Homo sapiens: one gene and its partners. The protein of the gene in region 1 binds, or shares a complex with, the protein of each later gene. Each region holds a gene or a part of one and is shown in the gene's direction. Other genes may lie near its edges.

Region 1 (7,029 bases):
TGAACTCCTGGCCTCAAGCGATCCCCCCATGTTGGCCTCCCAAAGTGTTGGGATTATAGGCATGAGCCACCATGCCTGGCCCAAACATTTTCATTAAAAGACTAGATAGTAAATATAGCAGGTTCTGTGGGGTCTGTCTCATAATATTCTTTTCTTTCTTTCTACAACCCTGTAAAAACTTAAAAATCATTCTTTGCTTGAGATGGGCCAGACAAAACCAGACCACAGGCCCAAATAGTTTACAGATCCCTGATCTAACACTATGGGTTAACTATGAAAAAGTAGAAAGAGACCATCAAAGAAAACCAGAGCTAGTGAGTAGTTGAAGTGGTACAAAAACCAGATGTTATTCAGGAACTATTACAGTAGGGGAAAAGAGACTTCAGTATAGACTTCCAAATTTCCTCAGTTCCGAATATAGCATGGACAAGTGGAGATTTATAGCCAAGGAGCAAGGTGGGAGTCAGTGGATGGAAAATTACCCAAAGGAAACATCAGGGGCAAGGTGGGATTCTGGCTAAATTGACTTGACAGGATTCTTGCTGAAGGCATGCCAGGCTGATCAAATACCAAGGGTGGGAGTTCTTTCTAAACTGATTCAGCAAGATTCTTGCTACAATTGGGTGGGTAGTGCAGGCCCAACAAAGATGTCAAGGTCAGGGCCTAGACAGCTTAGAGGAACCTGACTAGAAGTAGATAAAGGAGGGCATCTTGTCAGTGCAAAGAATAATAAGACACTTCCTGCCCTCAAGGAATGCAGTCCAAAATTACAAAATTTCTTTGATTCTAGGTCATCAATAATTTTTTTCCTGTGCCAGTCTTCTAAATCATAGCTTTGCCGGGTGCGGTGGCTCACACCTGGAATCCCAGCACTTTGGGAGGCTGAGGCGGGTGGATTGCCTGAGGTCAGGAGTTCGAGACCAGCCAGGCCAACATAGTGAAACCCCATCTCTACTAAAAAAAAAAAAAAAAAAAAAAAAATTAGCTGGGCGTGGTGGCGGGTGCCTGTAATCCCAGCTACTAGGGAGGCTGAGGCAGGAGAATCACTTGAACCCGGGAGGTGGAGGTTGCAGTGAACCGAGATCACACCATTGCACTCCAGCCAGGGAAACGAGTGAAATTCTGTCTCGAATCAATGAATGAATGCAAGCTTCTGGGAAAAAAGATAAAACAATGCCACATGAAAGAAACACACACCAATAGGAAAACACATTTTAACTTCAGAAATGTTAAAGATTATACATTGGTCTTAGAATCAAGGGAATAAATAATAGACACCATTTTTTGAGCCCTTAACACATCACTTAGTCAACTGTAAGTAACACAGAACAACTAAAATAGCCTTAAGAGATAAGGACCTTTTATATTAACAAGAAGTCATAAGGTAGGAGGGCTCCAGAGTTCACGTGGAGACTCATTTGATTCCGGCTCTTGTCATCTTACTGCTGACACCCTTAGTGTGCCCTACTTGTCCTCCACCTGGTCCTCCAAGTGCAGAAACTGCACTTCCACCCTTAGCGTCCTCTAGTTGTCCTCTACTAGCTCTCCACTGGGTCTGGCAGAGGCCATAGTAGTTCCAGGTATCTAAACCTCATGATGAAGGGAACGTCTCTTCTGCAGATTTTTAAAGATAAACTCAAGTTTTCCAGAAGCCCCTCCAGCAGATCTCCCCTCACATTTCATTGGCCAGAGTTGTGTCACATGCCAATTTTTAAAGCAGTCATTGGCAGAAGGAGTGGGAACCAATCATGGTTCACTCACTGTTCAATTGGGGCTGGTGGGTGGCTGTTTATTAGGCAAGCCATAGTATCTGCTACACTGTGCTAAGCACTTTATAATTGTTCAGTCTATGATTTTGCACTATATACAGATGGTTCCCAACTTACGATGGTTTGACTTAGGATTTTTTTGACTTTAGGATGATGCGGAAACAATACAAAGTCAGTAGGAACGGTACTTCAAGTAGGAACGGTACTTCAAGTACCCATACAAACATTGTTTTTCACTTTAAGTATAGCATTGAATAAATTATATGAGATTTACCACACGTTACTGTAAAATCAGATTTTATGTTACATGATTTGCCCAACTGTAGGCTAATGTAAGTGTTCTTTTTTATTTTTTTTATTTTTATTTTTTTTAGACGGAGTCTCGCTCTGTCACCCAGGCTGGAGTGCAGTGGCGCGATCTCGGCTCACTGCAAGCTCCACCTCCTGGGTTCACGCCATTCTCCTGCCTCAGCCTCCCGAGTAGCTGGGACTACAGGTGCCTGCCACTACGCCCGGCTAACTTTTAGTATTTTTAGTAGAGACGGGGTTTCACCGTGGTCTCGATCTCCTGACCTCGTGATCCGCCCGCCTCGGCCTCCCAAAGTGCTGGGATTACAGGCGTGAGCCACCGCGCCCGGCCTAATGTAAGTGTTCTGAGCACGTTTAAGGTAGGCTAGGCTAAGCTCTGATGCTTGATAGGTATATTAAATGCATTTTTTAATTTTAATTTTTTATTTGAGTGCTAGAACTAAATATTAAATGCATTTTCATCTTATAATGGGTTTATCAGGACATAACTCCCTCCTGTATTCTGCTGAGGGAGTGTGAAAGGAAAAGATTTGGGGTCCTTTTTTTTTTTGAGATGTCTCACTCTGTCATCAGGCTGGAGTGCAGTGGTGCGATCTCGGCTCACTGCAACCTCCGCCTCCGCCTCCCAGGTTCAAGCGATTCTCCTGCCTCAGCCTCCAGAGTAGCTGGGACTAGAGGCACGTGCCAACACGCCCAGCTACTTTTTGTATTTTTAGTAGTGATGGGGTTTCACCATGTTGGCCAGGATGGTCTCGATCTCTTGACCTTGTGATCCACCTGCCTTGGCCTCCCAAAGTGCTAGGAGTACAGGCGTGAGCCACCTCACTCGGCTGGGTCCTTTCGATTTTTAGAGACAGTGTCTTATGCTGGTACCCAAGCTAGAGTGCAGTTCTATGATCATAGCTCACTGCAGCCTCGAACTCCTGGGCTCAAACGATCCTCCTGCCTCAGCCTCCCTAGTAGCTGGAATTACAGGTGCAAGCTACTGCGTTCAGCTGATTTAGGCCCTAAAGTTGGAATTTTGGAAGAAAAATTTCTGAGATTGCTGTGATGGACATTTTGCTGATGGAGGTTTCCCCTAGACCTATCCATTTGTTGTCTGGATCTGTTTCACTGTATACTTTCATAGCACCTTAGAACCCAAATAAAAGCAATTTCCTTTTCCTCCATGCATGTTCCCCTCATTGCCTGGAGTTGACTGGTACCACTTGGTAATCTTACTGTCTGTGTCTGGCTCTCTCTTCAGAACAGCATGATCCTCTCTGCTGCCATCTTCATCACCCTCTTAGGTCTGCTTGGTTATCTCCATTTTGTGAAGATTGATCAGGAGACTCTGTTAATCATTGATTCCCTTGGCATTCAGATGACTTCATCTTATGCTTCAGGCAAAGAAAGCACTACCTTCATAGAAATGGGCAAGGTCAAGGATATTGTCATCAATGAGGCCATTTACATGGTAAGTATTTAAAAGGTAAGTATTACAGGCCTCTCTGGAGGAGGTAGCCAGCCCATGGGATGTTCCCAGATTTAAACTAAAACCGTAAAAGTGAGACTTATATTTAAAAGGTAAATCTCTTTATTTTTAAAGAGATGCAGCAGGTTTTCATGGATAGGGAATTAGCATTTCAACTTTATCTTCAAGACCAACTTCAAAATTATCACTGGCATTTTTTCCTTCTCTTTCTATCTTTTTTCTTTTTTTTTTTTTGAGACAGGGTCTCACTCTGTTGCCCAGGCTGGAGTGCAGTGGCTCGATCACAGCTCACTGCAGCCTCAACTTCCCAGGCTCAAGCCATTCTCCCACCTCAGCCTCCTGAGTAGCTGGGACTACAGGCATGCACCACCATGCTTGGCTCGTTTTTTCTATGTTTTGCAGAGATGCAGTCTCACTATGTTGCCTAGGCTGGTCTTGAATTCCTGGGCTCAAGCCATCCTCCTGCTGTGGCCTCCCCAAGTGTTCAGTTTACAGGTTTGAGCCACTACGCCTGGCCCTGTCTTTTTTCATTTAAAGAATGAGAATATACTTTTCTTCCACTTCAAAAGCTATCAAGTGTTCTACTACTTAAACATTTGTGAAAAAGTGTTGAGCCTTCCCTTAGAAAAATAGAATGTGGCCAGGTGTGGTGGCTCACGCCTGTAATCCCAGCACTTTGGGAGGCCAAGGCAGGCGGATCACCTAAGGTCGGGAGTTCCAGACCAGCCTGACCAACATGGTGAAACCCCATCTCTACTAAAAATACAAAAAATTAGCCGGGCATGGTGGCGAGCGCCTGTAATCCCAGCTACTTGGGAGGCTGAGGCAGGAGAATCGCTTGAACCTGGGAGGTAGAGGTTGCAGTGAGCCGAGATTGCGCCACTGCACTGCAGCTTGGGCAACAGAGAGAGACTCTGTCTCAAAAATAAATAAATAAAGGAAAAAGAAAAAAAGAATGCAAAATGAGTTTCACTTAGACTTTGCTATTTGATTTATTTTCTTACAGCAGAAGGTGATTTACTACCTCTGCATCTTATTGAAAGATCCAGTGGAACCACATGGGATATCCCAAGTAGTACCCGTCTTCCAGGTGAGCATAGAATACTTTTACCATTCTCCAATTACTCCTCAACCTTTTCATTAGGAATGTAAATTCCTTTTGTCAGAGTATTGGAAGATACCTGACAGCTGTTTTGAGTGATAATTAGGATTTCAGTTATTTGAGAAGTTCCTCTCTGAGGCAAATGTATTCCTTAAAAATATTCATGCACATTTTATTTTATTTTAGAGACAGAGTCTCACTTTGTCACCTAGGCTGGAGTGCAGTGACAATCACCACTCATTGCAGCCTCCACCTCCCAGGCTCAAGAAATCCTCCTGCCTCAGCCTCCTGAGAACTTGGGACTACAGGTGTGCACCATCTCGCCTGGCTAATTTTTTTTTTTTATTTTTAGTAGAGATGAGGTCTTGCCATGTTGCCTAGGCTGATCTTGAACTCCTGAGTTCAAGCAATTCTCCTGCCTCAGCCTCCCAAAGTGTTGGGATTACAAGCATGAGCCAGCATACCTGGCCTCATGCACATTTTAAAGAACACAATCAAATATATAGCAACTTCTGCCTATAAATCACCATTCATCTACTTTGACTCTGTCAGTCTACTACTGTACACTTTTTTTAGATAGAGGTAATTGATCTTACATTGTACACTATTGTGTGTCTTGCTTTGTAAATAATTTAATATGTATGTATCCTACAAAGGCCATTATATTTATTATTTTAAATAATTGTATAATATATTGAAATATCAGTTTATTTAGCCACTCTTGCCAGCTTTTAAAATCATGCCTGGGTTTTTTTGTTTTGCTCTTACAAAAAAAAAAAAACACTTATCAGCTGGTGCAGTGGCTCATGCCTGTAATCCCAACACTGTGGGGGAGGCTGAGGCAGGCAGATCACTTGAGCTCAGGAGTTCGAGACCAGCCTGGGCAACATGGTAAAACCCCCATCTCTACAAAAAATACCAAAATTAGCTGAGCATGGTGGTGCACATCTGTGGTCCCAGCTACTGGGGAAGCTGAGGTGGGAGGATTGCTTGAGCCCAGGAGGTCAAGGCTGCAGTGAGCTTTGATCATGGCACTGTATTCAGCCTGGGTGACAAGAGACCCCATCTCAAAAAACAAAAATTATACAAACATAATAAATTACAAAATAATAAATTTAGAGGTAGGTATTTATGCATGTATTTATGTATACAGTTAACCCTGCCTCACTGACCTTTTTCACAAAGGATTTAAGATAAGCCAAAAATTATTTTGCATTGTAATTCAAAATTATTTTATTAAAGCTTATGAATAGTTTTATAGATTTCTAGTGTTTAAGATCGGGCTCCAGAGATTGGACAACTTTATCATACTTTGGGGATTTTGTACTTCTTTTTCTACCATCCTGGCTAATAGTGGATTTAGCTTTTTTAGCTTAATATGTAGGTAAAGGCATTAAATTTGTATCTCTTTAAATGATAGGCTTTTCATATTTCCTTGTATTACCTATCAGTATTTCCTCTTACTTTAAACTACCTATCTTCTCTATTAGTCAAGTAGAATCTGAATATTATGTATTTGTATCTATTTTTATATATTTTTAACAATTCTTTATATATTTTAGGTAGTGCACTTTTATTAAATATACTTTCACATATATTTTTTCCATTCTGTGGCTTTTCTTTTAATTTTGGTTATTACATTTCATTGTGTAAAACATTTTTCAATATTTACATATTAAACTGCACTTCTTGTGTTTGAGGGCTGTTTTACAACTTGTGACATTTCTCAAGGGTCCATTTTGTTTTTCCTCTTGCTTATTCTTAGAGATGGAGTTCATGAAATTTAGACAGATTAAAAAGCTATCATTTGATCTCCCACCTCGCATAGTTCACAAGCTGTGCTGTAAGCCTAGCTGGGACTCTTTCCAGCAAGGTGTGCTGAGGCCTAAACTTCTTAACTCCATGAGCTCACTGCTGTGTCATTTATACCCCTTGATGTGGGTGAGAGATTGAAGTTGCATGTGGTCCCGGCACCATGGCTCAAGCCTGTAATCCCAGCACTTTGGGAAGCCGAGGTGGGCAGATCACTTAAGGCCAGGAGTTCAAGAGCAGCCTGGCCAACATGGTGAAACCCTGTCTCTACTAAAAATACAAAAATTAGTTGGGCATGGTGGTTCGTGCCTGTAGTCCTAGCTACTTGGGAGGCTGAGGCACAAGAATCATTTGAACCCGGGATGCAGAGGTTTCAGTGAGCCGAGATTGTGCCACTGGGCGTGGTGGCGAGCACCTGTAATCCCAGCTACTCGGGAGGCTGAAGCAGGAGAATCACTTGAACCTGGGAGGCGGAGGTTGCAGTGAGCCGAGATTGCGCCACTGCACTCCAGCCTGGGCAACAGAGCAAAACTCTGTCTCAAAAAAAAAAAAAAAAAAAAATT
Region 2 (7,739 bases), on another chromosome or scaffold:
GATTCCTCCATACTAATTTTTAGTTTCCTGTTTTGTTGATTCTAACCTTATGCCTGTATTCTTAGTTCTAGTGGACTGGGACCCTAAGGCACTTGAGACATAGTGAGGGGGGTGGGGCCATTCATTTCATTTAACAAATATTTATTGAACATTGATGGTGTACCAAGCACAGGGCTGTGCTAAGGAGATGGGACATGTATTCATATTCTATGTCATTCTAGAACTGCTGTTGGTTTCATTTCAACAAAAATTTTTTAGTACCTTAGATAAAACATCTGGAACTTGAAACAAAATTGGCAAATTCATATTCTTCTTGGATGAAGTCAGAAAAGTCGCAGAGGTATGAGGATATCTAAGTAATTAAAACAAGAGAACGTTAGAACCGCAGTCCCATGTTTGAAGAGCCAGGCCCTTGGTTGTTTCTGAGAGAATACAAGGGACACCACAGGGAGCTATCTTCCACTCCAGTTCTGGAGCACTCAGGCCATTGGGGAGCTCCCAAAAGATGGATTTGCCCTCCTATGTCACTTTGGCTTTTCTGTCCCTTTTGTTTTGCACTAACCAATTTTGGATTGTCAGACACTGTACAAACAAGGCAGGATAAAGATTGTTCACAACAGTAGATGTGTAATGAGCGAAATGAATCCCAGGTTTCCTCTTTGAAAGGGTCTGCACTCAAGTTTTTGATGTTTAACCTGCACCTGTCCCCTTTCGTACCTGGGCTGACTTCTTGGAGTTTGTGTCCTTGCACCCTGAAACAATCCACCTGTTTCCTCCCACAGAATGTCTTCTCCCTTCACCCATTCTTTTCCTTTGGAACATTTTTTCTTTCTAGTTAGCAGTTGAAGCAGTGATGTTGCAAGAACACCAGTTCCTTTTACAGGGTGACCTGCCTGCGCTCTGTCTCACTTGGCACTGTGGTTCATTTCATTACAGTGTAAGGGGCCAAGGCCTGCAGGGGCCTGATAATCATAAACTGTGTGTGTTGCACCATTCATGCCCCTGGCATCCAAGAAATAGAAACTCAGAATGCTGGCAGTTTTGCCGGGAACACACCTCCTCTCTAATGAGGGAAGATTTCATTGTCCATTGTTTATTTAAAACAAAGGCATGTGAAAGGAGTTTGATGCTCATGAGACATTTCTTGCTTCATTTCTCCTCACACTTCCCTGGGCCCTGTAAGACCAGAGATGGTGGGTCTGACATGAGTGCCCTCGGGGTCTTTGTCTTTGATATGGGAATAGGCTCTCTTGGACTTGTCACCCAAATGCTGACCAGCAGAGACCAGGAGGCCAGTTTAGAACTCCTTCAGCATACAATAATCTTATATAAACATGACCTTAGTGTGACTTGAAGGGCTTTGGAGACTGACGATGAGTGTGGCTTTGAAATTGTCAGGCCTACCTGAGAGAGTCCTTGAAGGAAGTGGGTCAGTACAGGCACTTCTTATTACAGCCCAGCCTCACCTCCTCCAACCCTGTAGGTGTGTTTCCATTGCGCACACTTGGAATTACTCTGAGCATATTTGGCTAAATGTTCCTTTATCTTTTTTCAGACTGTTCTGCATTAGAACTCTTTGCTCAAGGGTATGTAATGCTTAAGGCACATTGAGAACTTTCTCCCAAAGTCTCAGTAAGGGGCTTTGCCAAAAATAAACAGCTTGGAACCCGGAGCTTTGGCCCACATGAGGAGCTTTTAATCCTTAAGATCTTTTGATACTTAAACCATCCTTTCAAAAGACTTTTCATTCCCGTCTTGTCCTCCTGAGAGCTCAGGGCACCTCAAAGGTGCTGTTCGGTCACCTTTGTTGTGAGGTAGGTATATTACATTTTTCTAAACAAGAATTAAGATTGCTACCCCAATCCTCCCAGAATAGCGATGAGTAGAGCTTCACTGCCTGCCTAAGGTAATTTCTCCTTGTGCCTAGCTTAGGTTTGGCTGGCTGGAGGAAAAACTGCCCACTCCCTTTCCAGTTGGCTGTCAACAGACTGTCTGCTCTGACCCTCCAGGACCTGGCTATGAAAGTGAACAGGTGCTGCCGATGCCCAGTTGTATTCTAGGCCTACCCTTCTCCCTGATCTCCACCCTCTGCCAAAGGCTTGTGTAATTAGAGACCAAGGGAGCTGGGGGCAAGAGAGCCATGCACAAGGATACTTTGCTCTTCGCTGCTGGGGCAGGTCTAATGGGCATGGGGGTAGTATGGGATGGTGGGATATTACCCTATTAGATCAAACACTAGCAATTTCACATAAAACATCCAGATTTCTAGTACTGTTAGAAGACCCAGTGGATCTGGCCTCTGGACTCACATGCCTGCAGGTAACACTGCTGGCGTGGGGGTGGGCTGAAGCGGGGAGGTGATTTCCCATTCATTGCAGTCCTGTTTGGCCAGCTTTACTCATTATGCCCCTCATCTGACTGTCATGGGCCTGTGAGTTTGTGTCCCACCCTCAATTAAAATATGCTAGACTGTCCTTACTCGTGCTGATCCATGCAGTGTTAACAACTCTTAATAAGCACTCTATCACTTAGTACTTTTGTTTCTTAAATAGGCCTTTGAGTTTATTGAACCTCTGATAATCTGCTTTCGTTATATTCAAAATTATGTAAAAATAACACAACTGAATAACGAGCACTTGAAAGCACTTGTGAATTTTGTTCTGAAAATACTAAAACCGTCTACCTATTTACTGAGAATGAGATTTTTTTTTAATGTACAGTAGACAAAGCAAAGGTACATGTTACTAAAGTGGGGATGTGGAGACAGTGATGGGAATTTGCTTATGAAGTCACTTATCCATGGGCAGGAGGGTACATGGTAGTTATCAACAGGAGGAGAAACTCTTTTTGGGGAGTCTGGCTTTTCTAACGAGCTGTTTCGAATGCCAAGGAGTCATTCCTTTTTAGTCTGTCGTGTGCCTTTGGAATGGCCTCTATGCCTGCCCTTTCTCTTTCTCTCTGCCCTCTTTCTGGTTTCTCTCATTCACCCCAACACTACCTCACACCTACCCTTCTGTCCATGTCCCCTTCCCAGAGTGGGGTTTATCACTACACTTAGGAACCATTTCATCAAAAATGGAGAAGGGACACGGTAACCCAATTATTTCAAGAGACAGTTGAAATGCTCCCTAGATATGTAATTCCTGCAATTTTGAAAAATAGATTTATGTGTCATATAGTAGTTTGTTTGGAAGGAGTAGGACTAACAGGAATGTAGGAGGGTGCCTCAAAGTTACATACAGAGTTACTATTCTATAAAGATGGGAACTTACTGTTCTAGACTTTTGATGGTAAAAATGTGAAAATTTCAGACTACAGCAGTGGAGAAAATGTGGGGTGAGAAAGAGGATGGAAGTGTTTTGAGAGACAGTGTCTAGGGGAAAAATTATCTTATACTGTTGAGTGGTAGTGGTGGAGAGGGAAAAATTTTGAGATCTCATCTCCTCTAGCCAGGCCTATACTCAGTGATCATTTTTTTCTGAGAAACCCGGATTATTTCTATTTTTAAAGCACTTGACTTGAGTTTCTCAATGGATCAAATGTGCCCTCTGATAATTGTCCCCATCCCTTAAGAAGAAATCATCTTCTGTGAGATGTTTCGTAAAACTTTTGCCCTCGGTGGCTGAGAGGTTACCTTCTGGGAAGGCTGAGCACTAATGGCTTGTTTACAAGGCTGGCCTCACTAAGCCAAGGAATCTTGTCAAATTTTGGAACAGAAGCCTAGAGGGAAATAGAGAACATTTTACAGAATATATCACACTTAAACATTGCTATCATTACGATGGCCAAAGTCAGCTAATAGCAGCCATATAGTGAACACTTTACAAACCATTTTTATATTTAACTCTTTAACCATCCTATAAAGTAGCCAAGTGCAAATAATGTCATCTCCATTTTACTGATGAAGAAATCAAAGCTCAGGTAGTGTGATTTGCCTTGAGTCACTGAGCTAGTAAATGGGTCATGTTTTCTGACTTTTATTTCCACTGTATCCTGTGTTTTACTACATCCCTTTGTTTCTTTATTACTTCCTTCTGTTTATATATCCTTTAATATTTCCATGAACTCAGTTTAATTAGCAATCTTGTCCTCACTTCTTTTAGGAGGTAAAGAGGAAAAAAACCAAGCTTTGAAGCTATAGACAACTGGATATTGATCTCTGTTCATCTACTTCCCAGGTGCCTGTCTTTGGACAAATACAACTTATCTGAGCCTTAGATTTGTCCTCTTTGAGGGGGGAGATGATATAATCAGTGTAAAGGTCAATGCACCAAAAAAGAGAGTTTCATGAGAGCAGCAATTTTTGTGTGTTTCATTCACGGCTGTATCATGAGCACCCCAAGCATGGCTTGTTACATGCAGGCATTCAATCAGTATCTGTGGAATGAACGCATGGATGCACGGGAAGTCCCAGCTGAGGGCCTGACTTAATAAAGGAGCGCAACAAAAGCGGCCATTATCTCTCACCTACTGGCCCAGCCTCTTTCCTTGTCCTCTCTTGCCTTACCCAGTCCTTCAGATGGCACATCCCATCTTTCAATAGGGGATTGCTGGGGATTTGCCTTCCTAGGCTCAGAGCATTCGGGTTTGGGCCAGTCTCCAGGAGAGGAGACCGGAGGTCCTTCGAGCAGCCAGGAGGGGGCAGCAGTCACGTCGCGATGGTTCCAGCCGGGGAAGGGTGCCCTCGCTAAGGAGATTGCGGCGGACCCGGAAGTGCTTGGCCACAGTCGCAGCCCCGGCGCCCCGAAGCGGGAAAAAGGCTGGGTGCCGCCGTCCCCCAGCTGCGCAACCCTAGGAACTCTCGGGTAGGTGGGTTCCGTGTAACGGTCAGTGTTTCCGGGGCTCCTTTTCCTCTGCTGCCTCCCGCAGACCCAAGGCTGAGTGAGGGGCGGCGGCGGAAGTGGGAGGCCCACCCAAAAAGCCAAATGGGGTGCCAGAAGAGTGAAGGCGCACCCTGGGGTCACCCTACCCTACCCCGTCCCCTCCCAGCCCCACTCTGCGGGCGGGCGCTGCCCTTTTGGGCGTCGCAGACCCTCCAACCCCGGCGGCGGCCTTAAGATTCCCGGGCTGGGATCCCTGCTGCAGAGGGGGTAACGGTGTCTGGCTTGCCAAGCAATATTTGTTGTGGTCTATCATGGAAGAAATAAAGTCGGGCAATATGAATTTTTTTTTTCTCAAATTTGCCGGATGGCTGTGGTGTTTCTGACTCTTAGTTTTCTCATTGTGAAAAAGGAATGATTATCTTCTTCGATCCTCTCAAGAGTTTCCTTGTTTTGAGTAGATTGATAGCTCTTTAAAGGATGCTAAGCTCAGCTAATGGAAGAAGAGTCTAGTTTCTTTGAGGCTTTGATTTTGGTTAAACTATAGAGCTCATACCTTTCTGTATGGTGCAGCTTACTATTGTCTTTGGATTGGTAACTTAAAAAATACAAATAACATGCCTTTGAGAACCAATAAAAACTATGGATATTATCCCTATAAATTTACACAAATCCAGATATAAGCATGCAATGTGATATACCTAAGGGATATGTGAACCACTGAGTTAAGAACTGCTTTAGAGGGAGATACAATGTGAGACACAGGCTTTGGGATAAGACTTTGGTTTGAATCCTGGCTCTGCTCTGTTACCTTAGGGCAAAGTTACTTAAGCATCTTGAATCTCAGCTTTTTTACCAAAGCAGGACTAATACTAACTTACAAGGTGGTGAGGATTAAGTGAAAGAAGATACATAAGGCACTTAGCACATAGTAGGTACTCAATAAGCGATAGCTAACAGATGTCTATTATTATTCAAGGAATTATAATTTTCAAATCTGAAATGCAGTTTTAATGTCCCATAAGGTGACTACCACATACATTTTTCTCAGACTTTTAGTAAACTGAGTTGATTTGACTTTATCTCAGTACTACTCTTGACCTTTCACAACTTTCGTAGGTTCACAGTCTCTCTTTTTCTAGGAACTTGGCTGTGTTGTCCTGCCTCAGAGACAAATTCATCTATTGTAGGCCTAGCCCCTGCCTTTGAAAACAAGGAAAGGTTGGTAGAACATCAACACAGCATGGAATTTCCAGGGAGGTCTCATTTCAAAACTTCATAAAGAACAAGAACCACCTGGACTTCTGTGAGGGCGATGATTAAACTGGCCTGAGTTTGAATGAAAGGATAATGTATGCTCAACCTGTGACTAACACCAAGGAGGTCAAGTGGCAGAAGGTCTTGTATGAGCGACAGCCCTTTCCTGATAACTATGTGGACCGGCGATTCCTGGAAGAGCTCCGGAAAAACATCCATGCTCGGAAATACCAATATTGGGCTGTGGTATTTGAGTCCAGTGTGGTGATCCAGCAGCTGTGCAGTGTTTGTGTTTTTGTGGTTATCTGGTGGTATATGGATGAGGGTCTTCTGGCCCCCCATTGGCTTTTAGGGACTGGTCTGGCTTCTTCACTGATTGGGTATGTTTTGTTTGATCTCATTGATGGAGGTGAAGGGCGGAAGAAGAGTGGGCAGACCCGGTGGGCTGACCTGAAGAGTGCCCTAGTCTTCATTACTTTCACTTATGGGTTTTCACCAGTGCTGAAGACCCTTACAGAGTCTGTCAGCACTGACACCATCTATGCCATGTCAGTCTTCATGCTGTTAGGCCATCTCATCTTTTTTGACTATGGTGCCAATGCTGCCATTGTATCCAGCACACTATCCTTGAACATGGCCATCTTTGCTTCTGTATGCTTGGCATCACGTCTTCCCCGGTCCCTGCATGCCTTCATCATGGTGACATTTGCCATTCAGATTTTTGCCCTGTGGCCCATGTTGCAGAAGAAACTAAAGGCATGTACTCCCCGGAGCTATGTGGGGGTCACACTGCTTTTTGCATTTTCAGCCGTGGGAGGCCTACTGTCCATTAGTGCTGTGGGAGCCGTACTCTTTGCCCTTCTGCTGATGTCTATCTCATGTCTGTGTCCATTCTACCTCATTCGCTTGCAGCTTTTTAAAGAAAACATTCATGGGCCTTGGGATGAAGCTGAAATCAAGGAAGACTTGTCCAGGTTCCTCAGTTAAATTAGGACATCCATTACATTATTAAAGCAAGCTGATAGATTAGCCTCCTAACTAGTATAGAACTTAAAGACAGAGTTCCATTCTGGAAGCAGCATGTCATTGTGGTAAGAGAATAGAGATCAAAACCAAAAAAAATGAACCAAAGGCTTGGGTGGTGAGGGTGCTTATCCTTTCTGTTATTTTGTAGATGAAAAAACTTTCTGGGGACCTCTTGAATTACATGCTGTAACATATGAAGTGATGTGGTTTCTATTAAAAAAATAACACATCCATCAAGTTGTCTCATGATTTTTCCATAAACAGGAGGCAGACAGAGGGGCATGAAGAGTGAAGTAAGTGTGTGTGTGTGTGTGTGTGTGTGTGTGTGTGTGTGTGTAAAGTCACTTCTTTCTACCCTTTTCAATGTGCTAATGCTCTTTTATTTATCTAGGGCTCAAATCTTAGAACACAGGGTGCTATGCTCAGTTTTGTTGCCCAAGATCACAGAATTGGTTACTTAACCTTGACTCAGAGTTTCTACCTTGTTCTTAGGGAAGCATATCACAACTAATTGCAAAGCAGAGTGTGATGTGTCACAATAAGCAGAATGCTAGGGGGAATTCAGAAGCTGGAGATAAATTTCAGCTGGAATAATTAGGAAATAAGAGAGGCGGTGACATTTAAGCTTAGTCTTGG
Region 3 (7,074 bases), on another chromosome or scaffold:
TTCGTAAACAAAGTGCAGGATGGCCAAGATCACCTCAGCAAGGAGGATAACCGGCAGCAGAATGAACAAGGACATAAGCAGGCACCTGTTTTTCTTGACAGAACCTATGCAGCCCAGGAAGGCAACCACCGTGATAATGGAGACCACGATGACAAGCACATTGCCCGGCATGAGGGAGGGGAGCTTATGGAAGAGCACTCCCAAACTGTTGTGGATCAGCGGGTACATCCCCATAACTGCAGCAGCCACAGAACCAAAAGAGCAAGTTGGGCTGTGCGTGGTAGCTCACGCCTGTAATCCCAGGACTTTGGGAGGCTGAGGCGGGAGGATCACTTGAGCCCAGGAGTTCAAGACCAGCCTGGGCAACATAGTGAGACCCTGACTTTACAAAAAAAATTTTAGAAATTAGCCAGGTGTGGTGGTGCATGTGTGTGCCTATGGTCCCAGCTACTCAGGAAGCTGAGGTGGGAGGATTGTTTGAGCTCAGAAGGTGAAGGCTGCAGTCAGCTATGATGGAGCCACTGCACTCCAGCCTGGGAGATAGAGCAAGATCCTGTCTCAAAAAAAAAAAAAAGAAAGAAAGAGAGAAAGTGAGAGAGAGTAAGAAAGAAAGAAAGAAAAGAAAGAAAGACAGGACATACTTCCATAATTTCAAGCTACTTGTGCCCATGCTGGGATATTCTGGTCCTTTTGCAGGCACTAGTCCTCAGCCCTTCAGACAGAATTTGTGATTATCCTTCAGATGGCCAAAACAAGGCTGGTAACATTCATGTCTAGAGTTATTTCAAAACTCCTTTGATGTTTGAAACTAGCATTACTACTTTACTATTGAGGATAATTTTTTAATATGTTTATTGACCAACTGTATTTTCTTTTTTGCGAATTTTTCTTTTCAAATATTTTGTCCATTTATCTATTGGAAACTTGATTTTAATAAACTCATCATTAAAATTTATTAATAGGACTTTTATGATTTTTGTTTTTAAAATAAATGTTGGGCTGGGCACAGTGGCTTATGCCTGTAATCCTAGCACTTTGGGAGGCCAAGGTGGGTGGACTGCTTGAGCTCAGGAGTTCCAGACCAGCCTGGGCAACATGAAACACCATCTCTACAAAAAATACAAAAATTAGCTGGGTGTGGTGGCATGCACCTGTATTCCCAGCTACCTGGAGGCTGACATGCCAGGATTGCTTGAGTCTGGGAGGTCAAGGCTGCAGTGAGTCACGACTGCACCACTGTACTCCAGCCTGGATGACACAGAGAGAATCTGTCTCAAGAAAATAAAATAAAAATAAAAAATAAGTGTTGTCAAACTAAGAAACAATTGGCAAAATGAAAGTAAGTCTTTGTAATCACAGAAAGAAAAGATCAAGCAGAGATAAATGTTAGTTCAAATACTAAATGATGCCATCTAGTGGAAAATTTATTTTGACTCATTTCTTTGGATTGCAGGTTCACAAATTTCAATGCCCCCAAATTTGGAATTGACAGGCTCTGTTAAAATACATAGTCCAGCCCCTCTTCTGCCTAGAGATTTCTAACTTCATGTGTGTGATAATCCAAGAATTGTGTTTCAATAGTATCCATATTGGAAATTAGAAAAATTCCATTTCAGTTAAAAAGAGTGTCCCAGAAGTACCTTGTGCTTTCCCTTTCCATCAGAATGTTTACTAGTTTCACCATAATAAATAATTTTATTGCTAAACATTCTTTAAATGTGTTAGCCCCTGTGCTGTTTTACTTGAATTGTTTTATTTAGTCTGTTCAAACACTGTAAGTTACATACTATTATTATTGTATTTCACAAGTGAGAAGGTTGAGGGTGAGAACTTAAGTAGCTTCTCCAAGATCACACAGCTATATTGTATCTGAGCCCAGAAACCATCAGGTTATTGTGCACAGGCCTATGTGACACGAAAGGTCAGTCATGTGAATAGTGAAAAGGGACTAACTTTTAAAAGACCAGTTCCAGTCCCATGATCCTATCCTATCATCTACATTTAGCTTAGTATACTACAGGCAGAAATGAATTGTATTTCTTCATTACTAAGGGCTATTTAGGGACATATTGCTTTGATATGTTGCAACTTAATACACACATGGTGATAGTCATACATTCATATGTTCCTTAAATATTGGTTGTTGATTTCTGGTGTTATAAATTTGAGGATGTTTTCAATACTTTGCTGTTACTCTCTATTCTTCCCCTAAATAAAGTAAACTGAACTGCCTCAAACCCTCTATGTGGAGGCAAACTGAAACTAATTTATTTATAACTGGTTAGAAAACCCAGTTGATAGAGATCTGTCAGCCAAGCTAGCTGAGGCTTAAGCATGGGTGCCTTCCCCTACCCAACAAGCGCCAAGGGTTGGGCCCACTCAGCGCTTGCAGAAGTCAAGCGCTGTTTCTCCTTAAGCAGAAACTTATCTTTCCTACAGCTCACCCCTTCCCTTGAGCCCAAAGTATCAACTGACTTCAACTGAAAAATTAATTCCTGCTACTGCCCTAGTCGGAAATAGTGTGAAGGTGACATAGGAACTTTACAGTAGTTTCCCTTGAGGGTATGTCCCGATAACTGCCCTATTCTCTAGTCCGTTAGTAACTCTAATAACGGAAAGTTATGACTGTGAAAGATTGCTTTGTGAGGGAAGGAAGGTGAGGCAACCAGAGACTTTCATTATCTCTTAAATATCTATCCAGTAGAAGTGTTTCCTTTTTGGTATCCTATAAACTACATTAACCTTAGAAAATCTTCTGAGCATTAGTGAACAAAGAACATCAAAAAATAAACTGTTTTTTTTAAAAAAAACAGGATGGCCCAAAAAACAAACAAAAAATTAGGATGAACATATAAACATTTGTCAGTTTATTTTTACATTGGAGTGGAAGAGAAATTTGAAAATATAAACATATTTTTGGATTCTGTACTTCCAGCTCCAGGAACTCAAAGTGTGAAATGATAATGCCCAGTGATGCAAAAAAAAAGTTCAGGTTGATATTCAGCAGAACGGAGGGAAAAAATGGATGACTAATGAGAATCTTTGAGTCTTCGGACATGGAAAAACTAGATGAACTAAAAATAAAAATAGACAACATTAATGGAGCATTAATTTGTGCCAGGCACTTTTCTAAATGTTCTTCGAATGCACAATCACATTTATGCCCTACCTACAAGGTAGGTACAATTATTAGTCTTATACAGATAAGGAAAATGAGCAGTTAAGTCATTTGCCAAAGTCATCCAGCTACTAATTGTGGACAGGGAACCAAGCTGTCAGGCCCCAGAGCCCAAGTTCCCATCTACTACACTGTAAGAAAGAGATCTAACATGGTCACTTTCTTGGAGAGTGGGAAGCAAACCTGGGATACAAATTCACTGAATGGATCACCCACTCATTGAATGGATCTTTAACAGGCAGATCACATCTGCCTGTTACACAGCTATTTAGGCCCCTTGCGGCCTCCAAGCTCATTTATAGAAGTAAATTAGCTGTGCTTTATTACGCAAATACTTCACAATGACTGGGTCTCAGGCAGGAAGAATTTATATATTTTGGAGGGTCAGAGGCCTAGGCCCTTCCTTCCAGGTTCTCACTTTTTTTAATGAGAGAGAAAAAAGCCAAACAAGGTTACAGAAACTAATGGTATAGTAAAGATGTACATGAAACAAATGAGCGCTTTCAATACATCCATGACAATACATTCGGTACAATACATAACAGTGTGTTTGAAACTTCACTTGGAGGTAACCACGTAGGTCCAAGCCTAACTCCCTACAACTCTGAGGCCTGGCCACTGGCTTCCTAGCATCCTTGGACAGGCCCCGGTGAAAACCCAGACACCTTGACTTAAACACTGGTTTAGTTTGTAGTCTGGTAAGGCGGCGGGGCACTCACCAGAGGCCTCTGCCCTGGGGCTGTCCTCCGGACTATAGATGACGCCCGTGGGAAAAGCAGTCGGAGCAGAAGCACCCTCGGAACCAAAGCGCCCGCCCCGCCTACTCCTCGGCAGCGTTTCCTGGAGGACCAGGGGGCGGGGCCTGCCCGGCTGGCCTGGACGAACGGGAAGCCGGGAGCTCGGCCACGGGTGGCGAGGCTGCGGTGAGGCCTGGTCTCCGGCTGCCAGACCATGCTGAGTGGAGCACGCTGCAGGCTCGCCTCAGCGCTGCGGGGAACGCGCGCGCCGCCGTCCGCGGTCGCCCGTAGGTGCCTGCACGCGTCGGGGTCGCGGCCTTTGGCCGACCGGGGCAAGAAGACTGAGGAGCCGCCCCGCGACTTCGATCCGGCGCTGCTGGAGTTCCTGGTGTGCCCGCTCTCCAAGAAGCCGCTCAGGTAACTCGCTGGCCTTGGCCCTTCCTTTGCAGCCTCCCGGTGGGCGGAAAGGGAGCGGTGGACCGCGGCCTCTTGCAGCCACTGGGGCCTTGTAGGTCGGTCAGGTACTCTCCGCTGCCACATTCTGGACTCTGTCCTCGCCGGGCGCACAGCGGGCAGGACGGGGGAGACCGGAGGCCAGGGGAGCTGCGTCCCACATCTCCCAGAACGCAACGCCAGCCTGCGGGAATGGCTCGAAGCGTTTTAGGGTTCGCGACCGGCTGCGCATTGCAATCACCCGGGGACCGTTTTAAAAATGCCGATTCCCCGACAGCCCCCAAGACGGGCAGACTTGGAATGCTCGCGGGATGGGACCTGAACATTTGTATTTTCTTTTCCTTTTTTTTTTTCCTTTTAAGAGACAGGGTGCCCCCTACGTTGCCCAGACTGGCCTAGAACTCCCGCCTCAGCCTCCTCAGGAGTCGAGAGACAGGCGCCGCCCCCACGCCCAGCTTATCTGTGTTCTTAAACGGTCCCTAAATGATTTCTAATGTACCACCAGGTTTATGAACCACTGCGATTCAGGACAAGTCCGAAGCCTTCCGGTTTTTAAGCCAAGATAATGAAAAGTATTGTTGTACCCTCCAGATTCTTGTGAAAGTGTCTTGTACAACTGGTGCCTGACAATCTTAAGCAATTCAGCTGTGTTTGCTGCCCAGTGGCTCTTAGTTGTGGCCTAGCAGGTTTCGTAGAAGCCTCTTTAACTAGTTTTTGGGAAGACAGCTCTACAGTTTCCAAGCTACCAAAATTGAATATTGACAACACTAACGCTAGTATTACAAATCGCATAAACACCAAAATGTTATCAGTGGTTATCTTTGAATGGTAGATTGCTAGCAATTTTTCGTATTTCTTTTTCCCGTAATAAACATATTATTCAATTTTCTCGAACCTTGAAATTATCATTTGATTTACGTTTATAACTAGCTCACTGCAGACTTAGTGCTTTCGAAAGTTTCTTCATTTCTGCCCTCTCACCTTTTCCAGTGATTTCCTTCTAATGGATTAGTTAAGTTTCTCTACTTAGCATTTATTCTAAAATGAAGAAGTTGATTTTTCTCTAGTGTTTATTCCAGTAGTAAATTAACAGGGATGGTTTGGGGGTTGACCAAAGTAATGAAGGAATATTTGGATAAGAGAGGGGGATCTTTTCTGACTAGTATGAAAAAAAATTAAGGAATAACTTGTGAATAAGGTGAAAAAGAGAATATGAGAGAAACTACTAAAATGGGAATAATTATAGATTGTAAGAGAATTTTTCTAAGATAAAAGGTTGAATTGGCTATTGTTGCTTTTAGAATTAAAGAAGACTATTCTGGGATTAACTCCGTACCAAAAATTGGATAAATGGTGGTATTTGTTGAAAATCAGGCTCTTCAAGCATTTTATTTTCCCACAACTCATTTTGTTCTTTTTTTTTCCACCTCAGATATGAAGCATCAACAAACGAATTGATTAATGAAGAGTTGGGAATAGCTTATCCAATCATTGATGGGATCCCTAATATGATACCACAGGCAGCTAGGATGACACGTCAAAGTAAGAAGCAAGAAGAAGTGGAGCAGCGCTAGTTCATAATTTAAAAAAATTAAAAAAACGCAACAGCCAACTTTTCTTAATACCATATACCTTTTAAAACACAGTGGCAGGTAATAAGTGGAAGAGAAGAATGTTTCTGTCTCTTCCTACGTTGACTGTTCTTATTCCACTGGTTTCTTTAGCAGGACTGTTCTACTCAGCCTCTGTGGAAGAAAACTTCCCACAGGGCTGCACTAGCACAGCCAGCCTTTGCTTTTACAGCCTGCTCTTGCCTATTACCATACCAGTGTATGTATTCTTCCACCTTTGGACTTGGATGGGTATTAAACTCTTCAGGCATAATTGATGCAACTAGAGTCAATATGCTGTATATATTAATGATAGCTCTTGGGCATCGATCTCTGAAAGCTCAAATGGATGGAATTTAGTTTGCGGGAAAGAGGCTTTGCTTTGCGCATATCAGGCTTAGGACTGTGGGAGGCTTAAGTTGCAGATGCTTCTTTTATTGTACTCTTGTTCTGCCCTTGTTTTTTGAAGGCTCTGACTTATAACTGCTGTATCAGAAGAAACATTTTGACAGTGTCTTGGTTGGAGATGAACATCCCTAATTGACATGTGATGACTATTTCTTATTCCATTCATCTAAGAGTCATTGAAATTTTGTTTTGCTTGTTTGTTTAGCTTCAAGGTCTTTGGTAAAGTCACATGTTAAGGATGACTGAAATAATTCCAAAGGAGTGATGTTGGAATAGTCCCTCTAAGGGAGAGAAATGCATTTGAACGAATGTGATATAAAACCACATAATCAAATAGAAACTTCATGTACTTACAAAAACTGAGTTTGTAAAATTACCTTCATTTCTTTGACATTAAATGCTTATATTAGCAATAAACATGTTGACACTTTCCTATAAAAAATAAACCAGTTTGCAGTAGTCGTTTGTTTGTTTGGTCACAGAAGTGTTAATGATACTAAGGGAAGTTGTAAAACTGCACTAAATGTAGTTGTGTTTAGAGAGGTACTTAATACCCAAAACAGAATCATTTCCTGGGAAAGTGAGGGGTGGGAAGACTTGCAAGTAGTGGATTGTACCCTGTTGAGCTTAGAGCCATATTTGAGCCACATTTCAGTTTATTTTCCCAGGATGCCGAATAACACCACTA
Region 4 (4,671 bases), on another chromosome or scaffold:
TGTGTGGCCACGCACCGTCTTGGGTGGTCTGGCCCCCACCTGTCTCCCTGCGAGTCCCCTAGTCCGTGGGGTGTGGGTGGACAGCCCTCCTGCTACTGGGACTGCTTCTGAGCAGGCCATCCCGAGTTCCCTCAGGAAGCCGCAAGGTCCCGACTGCAGCTCCGGGATGGGGGAGGGCACAGTGCTGGGCCGTCCCTGGGCGCGGGGTCCTGCTGATGCCCGGTGTGCTGGCCCCTCCCTACAGCTGTTCATCGGGACTCTGCTCTTCACCATCCTGCTCTTCCTCCTGCCTACCACAGCCCTGTACTACCTGGTGTTCACCCTGGTGAGCTGAGCACCCACAGGCTGGGCCTGGCTGCAGTGCTCTGTGTGGCTTCTGCCAGCGCTGCCTGGGAGCAGTCAGCTGTGGGGCGGGCTGTCTCCTGCTGCAGGCCACGTGGGTGGCCTTTCAGGACCCTCTGGGCAGTGAGTGCTGCGCTCTGGAGTGGGCGAGGCCCTATCCTGGCCAGTAAGACACCCTCACTGCCCTGGAGCACGCAGCTGGGTGCGTGGTGGAAGGACCCCACGGCAGGTGGGGTCACGCAAGAGGCCTCCCCTGGTGCCTGGCACTGGGGCAGACAGTGGGAGGTGAGCAGAACCACCTCCAGCACCTGCTTGATTCCCAGGCCTCGATCCCCTCTGCATGTGAGGCTGTGGGGAGGCACCTCTGACCTGGTGAGAGGGCCGGGTGCTCCGCCTCCAGCTTTGCTCCAGAGCAAGGCCCAATGGCAGACTCCGTGCCCTGCTCAGGGTGGGGTCCCTGCTCTCCCCAGGACCCTGCAGCCTCTGGGCCCCCTTCATCGTGGCCCAGGATGGGGTCGGACTGCTCTGCCCCCAGGCGCGTCTGGCCGGGCCGGTCCTAAATGCTCCTCTGCCACAGCTCCGGCTCCTGGTGGTCGCCGTGCAGGGCCTGATCCATCTGCTCGTGGACCTCATCAACTCCCTGCCGCTGTACTCACTGGGTCTTCGGCTCTGCCGGCCCTACAGGCTGGCGGGTAAGTGCTGCGTATTGGGCAGCTGGCCCTGGGTAGGTGGAGGGGAACCACACCTGTGGGCCCTGCAGAAGCAAGGACAGCATGGGCCACTGTGCCTCCAGCCTGGAAGCCGTGGTATGCATGCGCAAGCGGGCAGGGAGGACAGGGCCTCCTAGTCCCAGAGGTCTGCAGGACCAGCTGCCTCCAGGGAGGTGGAGAGAGACTCAGAGACTCACCTGCCGCGCAGGTTCAGAACCCTGGAGACCTGAGGCCACAGGCCTTTGTTCTTCTGCCTTGGGATTTTCTGGGCTTGGGAGTCTGAACTGCAGGCCAGGGGCCAAGCGCGGCAAAGTCAGAGGCACTAGGAGCCAGCAGGGCGGCCACCATCCAGTAAGTGCCCCGTCCGCTGTGCCGGAAAACCCCGTCCACTCAACAGCACAGCCTGCGCCCGTCCCTCACTGGGGCTCTTCCCTGCTTGCCGGACACCTGGCTTCTTTCAGTGGAGTCTGCAGGAGGCTTTTTTTTTTTTGAGACGGAGTCTCACTTTGTCGCCCAGGCTGGAGTGCAATGGCGCAATCTCGGCTCACTGTAATCTCTGCCTCCTGGGTTCAAGCGATTCTCCTGCCTCAGCCTCCCGAGTAGCTAGGATTACAGGTGTGTGCCACCACGCCCAGCTAATTTTTTGTATTTTAGTAGAGATGGGGGTTTCACCATTTTGGCCACGCTGGTCTCGAACTCCTGACCTCGTGATCCTCCCACCTCAGCCTCCCAAAGTGCTGGGATTACAGGCACGAGCCACCGTGCCCGGCTTTTTTTTTTTTTTTTTTTTGAGATGGAGTCTTGCTCTTTTTGCCCAGGCTGGAGTGCAATGGTGTGATCTCAGCTCACTGCAACCTTCGCCTCCCTGGTTGAAGCGATTCTCCTGCCTCAGCCTCCCAAGTAGCTGAGATTACAGGCACACGCCATCACACCCGGCTAATTTTTGTATTTTTAGTACGTATGGGGTTTCACCATGTTGGCCAGGCTGGTCTTGAACTCCTGACCTCATGATCCGCCCACCTCCCAAAATGCTGGGATTACAGGCGTGAGCCACCGTGCCTGGCTGCAGGAGGCTTTGATGCCGGCCTGGCAGCCAGCTCCAGGAGTTGGGCGACGGAGGGGGCGGGGAGAGCTTCGTGGGTGGCCACGGCCAGCAGCACCCGGGTGCCCCTCAGAGAGGAAGGTACCTGCAGCCTCTGCTCATGTGTGGGGCCAGCCCCCACGCGTCCCCTCGTCAGCCGCTTGCTATCCTTGCAGCTGGCGTGAAGTTCCGTGTCCTCCGGCACGAGGCCGGCAGGCCCCTCCGCCTCCTGATGCAGGTGAGGCCCCTTGTGGCCAGGACGCCCCTACGCTGCTGCCCCTGTTCTGGGACGGTGGGGTCAGCTGGGTGTAGTGTCTGGGTGGCACCACGCCAGCCTGCGATGAGGTACAGGGAGGGCCCAGTGGAGCTGAGGGGGAAGGCCCACGCGGGACCCCCTCCCCCTTACCCCCAGGGCCTGAGGACACTGGTGTGGTCCTGTGGATGGGGCCCATTCTGCCCTGTGTCGGAGGCGCCCTTGGCTGGCTGGGGCTGCCCTGGGCCCCACAGGGCTCAAGTTCTGGGTGGAACAGAACCGACTGAGTGAGTCCTGGGGTGGGGTGTGCGTCCCTGTGGCACGGCCCCTCAGAGTTGGGCAGCCCCGAGGGGAGATGCAGCTTCTGCCTCCCCCCAGCGCTCCCTTCTGGCTGCAGGCTCACTTGCCTCCTTGGGAACTGGGACTGGCTTCTCCCACAGGCAAGGGAATGTCTGAGACAGCACTGGCCCTGCCTCACAACTGCCCGCCCCCACCCTCTCTCTGCAGACGGGGTTGGAGCTCAGACCACCCCACTGACCGCTGCCCTTGTCCTTCCAGATAAACCCACTGCCCTACAGCCGCGTGGTGCACACCTACCGCCTCCCCAGCTGTGGCTGCCACCCCAAGCACTCCTGGGGCGCCCTGTGCCGCAAGCTGTTCCTTGGGGAGCTCATCTACCCCTGGAGGCAGAGAGGGGACAAGCAGGACTGAGGGAACTGCTGGCTCGCCTGGCACCACCACACGGCCACAGCCAGCCATCTGCTCTGCCAGGGTGGCACCAGCTCAGCTGGCGCATGTCCTGTGCTTTGTGGACGCTGCTGTGTGCTCCTGAACACGGCAGGCCCTGCTATCACACCTTGGGCTTGGAGGTCATTGGGAGTGAGCAGATGTGGGGGTGGCCAGCCAGGCTGGCCGCACTCCATCACTGGCACTGCCTGCCTTGGGACCCGCTTCCCACCTGCTGCGGTCACCATGGTGGCGAGCACAGCAACCCCAGGTGTCCAGAGCACTGCCCCATGCCCACCCTGTGTACCCAGGTCCAGAGGGTCCGTCCACCACAGCAGCCCCAGGTGGAGGGCTGGTCTCCCTGGGGGCTCCCCAGTGGCTCTGCCCTGGCTGTGGGGGTGGAGGGACCTTGCCAGGATGAACCCCCCAGTCCCAGGCACCCTCTAGCTCCCTCAGCCGAACAGCACCCTGCATCTGGGGGATTGAAGCAGTCGCTGACCCCCGTCCCCAGCGGGCCCGGGCCCTCACTCCCTGAACCACACGGGGTTTATTTGCGGATGTTCCCTGGAGAGGTCGCTTTGTGAAGAAACCATCAGCAGGCTGTGAGCATCGCCAGGCTGCTGTGGGGGCGGGAGCAGCCTCAGTGTCAAGGGCCCGCCCACTGACCCAGCCGTACCTATTCGTCCACGGTGCCCCGTAGCAGCAGGTCCTGCGGCCAAATCTGTCTCCCTTCATGGGCCTCCCAGGGAAGGAGGAAGCCCTGCTGTGCAGACACCTCTGTGGCCCCCCAGGAGTGTGAGTGGCCTGGGGAGGGGGCCGTGGCACTGAGGCCGAAAGTGCCTGCCAGACGGCACGGTCTGGGTGCGGGTGTTCCCTGTGAGCCCGAGTCCGCTTCAGGAGGGGAGCCTGCAGGTGCCGGCTGGTGAGGGGATGACGCGCTGTGGGTGGGAGGAGGCAGCGCCCATCTCAGCAGCACCAGGACTGCCTGGGACTCCCTGGCAACCCAGCACCGGGGAAGCCGTCAGCTGCTGTGACAATAAAACCTGCCCCGTGTCTGGAGCGCAGGCTCGGTCCCGGGTCCATGTGCAGCGCGGGTCCAGGGAAGCTCTGGGGGGGGGGTGTGTGGACGCTACTCGAGGGACTTGGGCTGCCTCACGTGGGTCTGCCCTGCAGAGTCTACACCGGCCTCCTGCTGGAGGCCCTGACGACGGCTGATGGGACGGGCTCACAGGCCCTGGGCCCTTGAGGACTTTGGTGTAGGCAGGTGAACCCGGGCCGCCCACCCTGGGGGCCGCCCACCCTGGGGTCGTGGCCTTGCCTCGACATAGATGGTGCAGGGGTGTAGGCCTCCAGGGGTGGGGCGAGCAGCTCCTGCTCTGAATCTGTGGACTCCATGTGGGGTGGGCCCCTCGTGGGTCCTGGCCCAGTACAGCCTGCGACTGCCACAGCTGCTAAGAATGGTCTCTGTCGCCTGCAGTGCTGGGGGCCCAGCTGGCGGGCCCCACAGCCCGTTCCCAGCCCGAAGTGTACAGGCCTCCATCCAACCTGGACTTCCAGGC

The links.
Region 2: PIGH (region 1) and PIGC share a complex: the UniProt entries of both Homo sapiens proteins name them as parts of the glycosylphosphatidylinositol-N-acetylglucosaminyltransferase (GPI-GnT) complex.
Region 3: PIGH (region 1) and PIGY share a complex: the UniProt entries of both Homo sapiens proteins name them as parts of the glycosylphosphatidylinositol-N-acetylglucosaminyltransferase (GPI-GnT) complex.
Region 4: PIGH (region 1) and PIGQ share a complex: the UniProt entries of both Homo sapiens proteins name them as parts of the glycosylphosphatidylinositol-N-acetylglucosaminyltransferase (GPI-GnT) complex.

Annotation. Positions count from the first base shown.
Region 1 is NC_000014.9:67,590,248-67,597,276, reverse strand, and holds part of PIGH (phosphatidylinositol N-acetylglucosaminyltransferase subunit H), read left to right. Parts: intron 1-3,324; coding exon 3,325-3,534; intron 3,535-4,558; coding exon 4,559-4,642; intron 4,643-4,840; coding exon of another isoform or gene 4,841-4,962; intron 4,963-7,029. UniProt on the Homo sapiens protein: Part of the glycosylphosphatidylinositol-N-acetylglucosaminyltransferase (GPI-GnT) complex that catalyzes the transfer of N-acetylglucosamine from UDP-N-acetylglucosamine to phosphatidylinositol and participates in the first step of GPI biosynthesis.
Region 2 is NC_000001.11:172,441,054-172,448,792, reverse strand, and holds PIGC (phosphatidylinositol N-acetylglucosaminyltransferase subunit C), read left to right. Parts: upstream 1-4,723; 5' UTR 4,724-4,805; intron 4,806-5,939; exon of another isoform or gene 5,940-5,962; 5' UTR 5,963-6,170; coding exon 6,171-7,064; 3' UTR 7,065-7,336; downstream 7,337-7,739. Other genes in the region: uncharacterized protein C1orf105, read right to left, coding at 262-352, 3,635-3,720. UniProt on the Homo sapiens protein: Part of the glycosylphosphatidylinositol-N-acetylglucosaminyltransferase (GPI-GnT) complex that catalyzes the transfer of N-acetylglucosamine from UDP-N-acetylglucosamine to phosphatidylinositol and participates in the first step of GPI biosynthesis.
Region 3 is NC_000004.12:88,520,756-88,527,829, reverse strand, and holds PIGY (phosphatidylinositol N-acetylglucosaminyltransferase subunit Y), read left to right. Parts: upstream 1-4,053; 5' UTR 4,054-4,129; coding exon of another isoform or gene 4,130-4,332; intron 4,333-5,800; coding exon of another isoform or gene 5,801-5,942; 5' UTR 5,943-6,040; coding exon 6,041-6,256; 3' UTR 6,257-6,832; downstream 6,833-7,074. Other genes in the region: PYURF (protein preY, mitochondrial precursor), read left to right, coding at 4,130-4,332, 5,801-5,942. UniProt on the Homo sapiens protein: Part of the glycosylphosphatidylinositol-N-acetylglucosaminyltransferase (GPI-GnT) complex that catalyzes the transfer of N-acetylglucosamine from UDP-N-acetylglucosamine to phosphatidylinositol and participates in the first step of GPI biosynthesis.
Region 4 is NC_000016.10:579,939-584,609, forward strand, and holds the end of PIGQ (phosphatidylinositol N-acetylglucosaminyltransferase subunit Q), read left to right. Parts: intron 1-244; coding exon 245-325; intron 326-919; coding exon 920-1,034; intron 1,035-2,309; coding exon 2,310-2,371; intron 2,372-2,944; coding exon 2,945-3,097; coding exon of another isoform or gene 3,098-3,696; 3' UTR 3,697-4,171; downstream 4,172-4,671. UniProt on the Homo sapiens protein: Part of the glycosylphosphatidylinositol-N-acetylglucosaminyltransferase (GPI-GnT) complex that catalyzes the transfer of N-acetylglucosamine from UDP-N-acetylglucosamine to phosphatidylinositol and participates in the first step of GPI biosynthesis.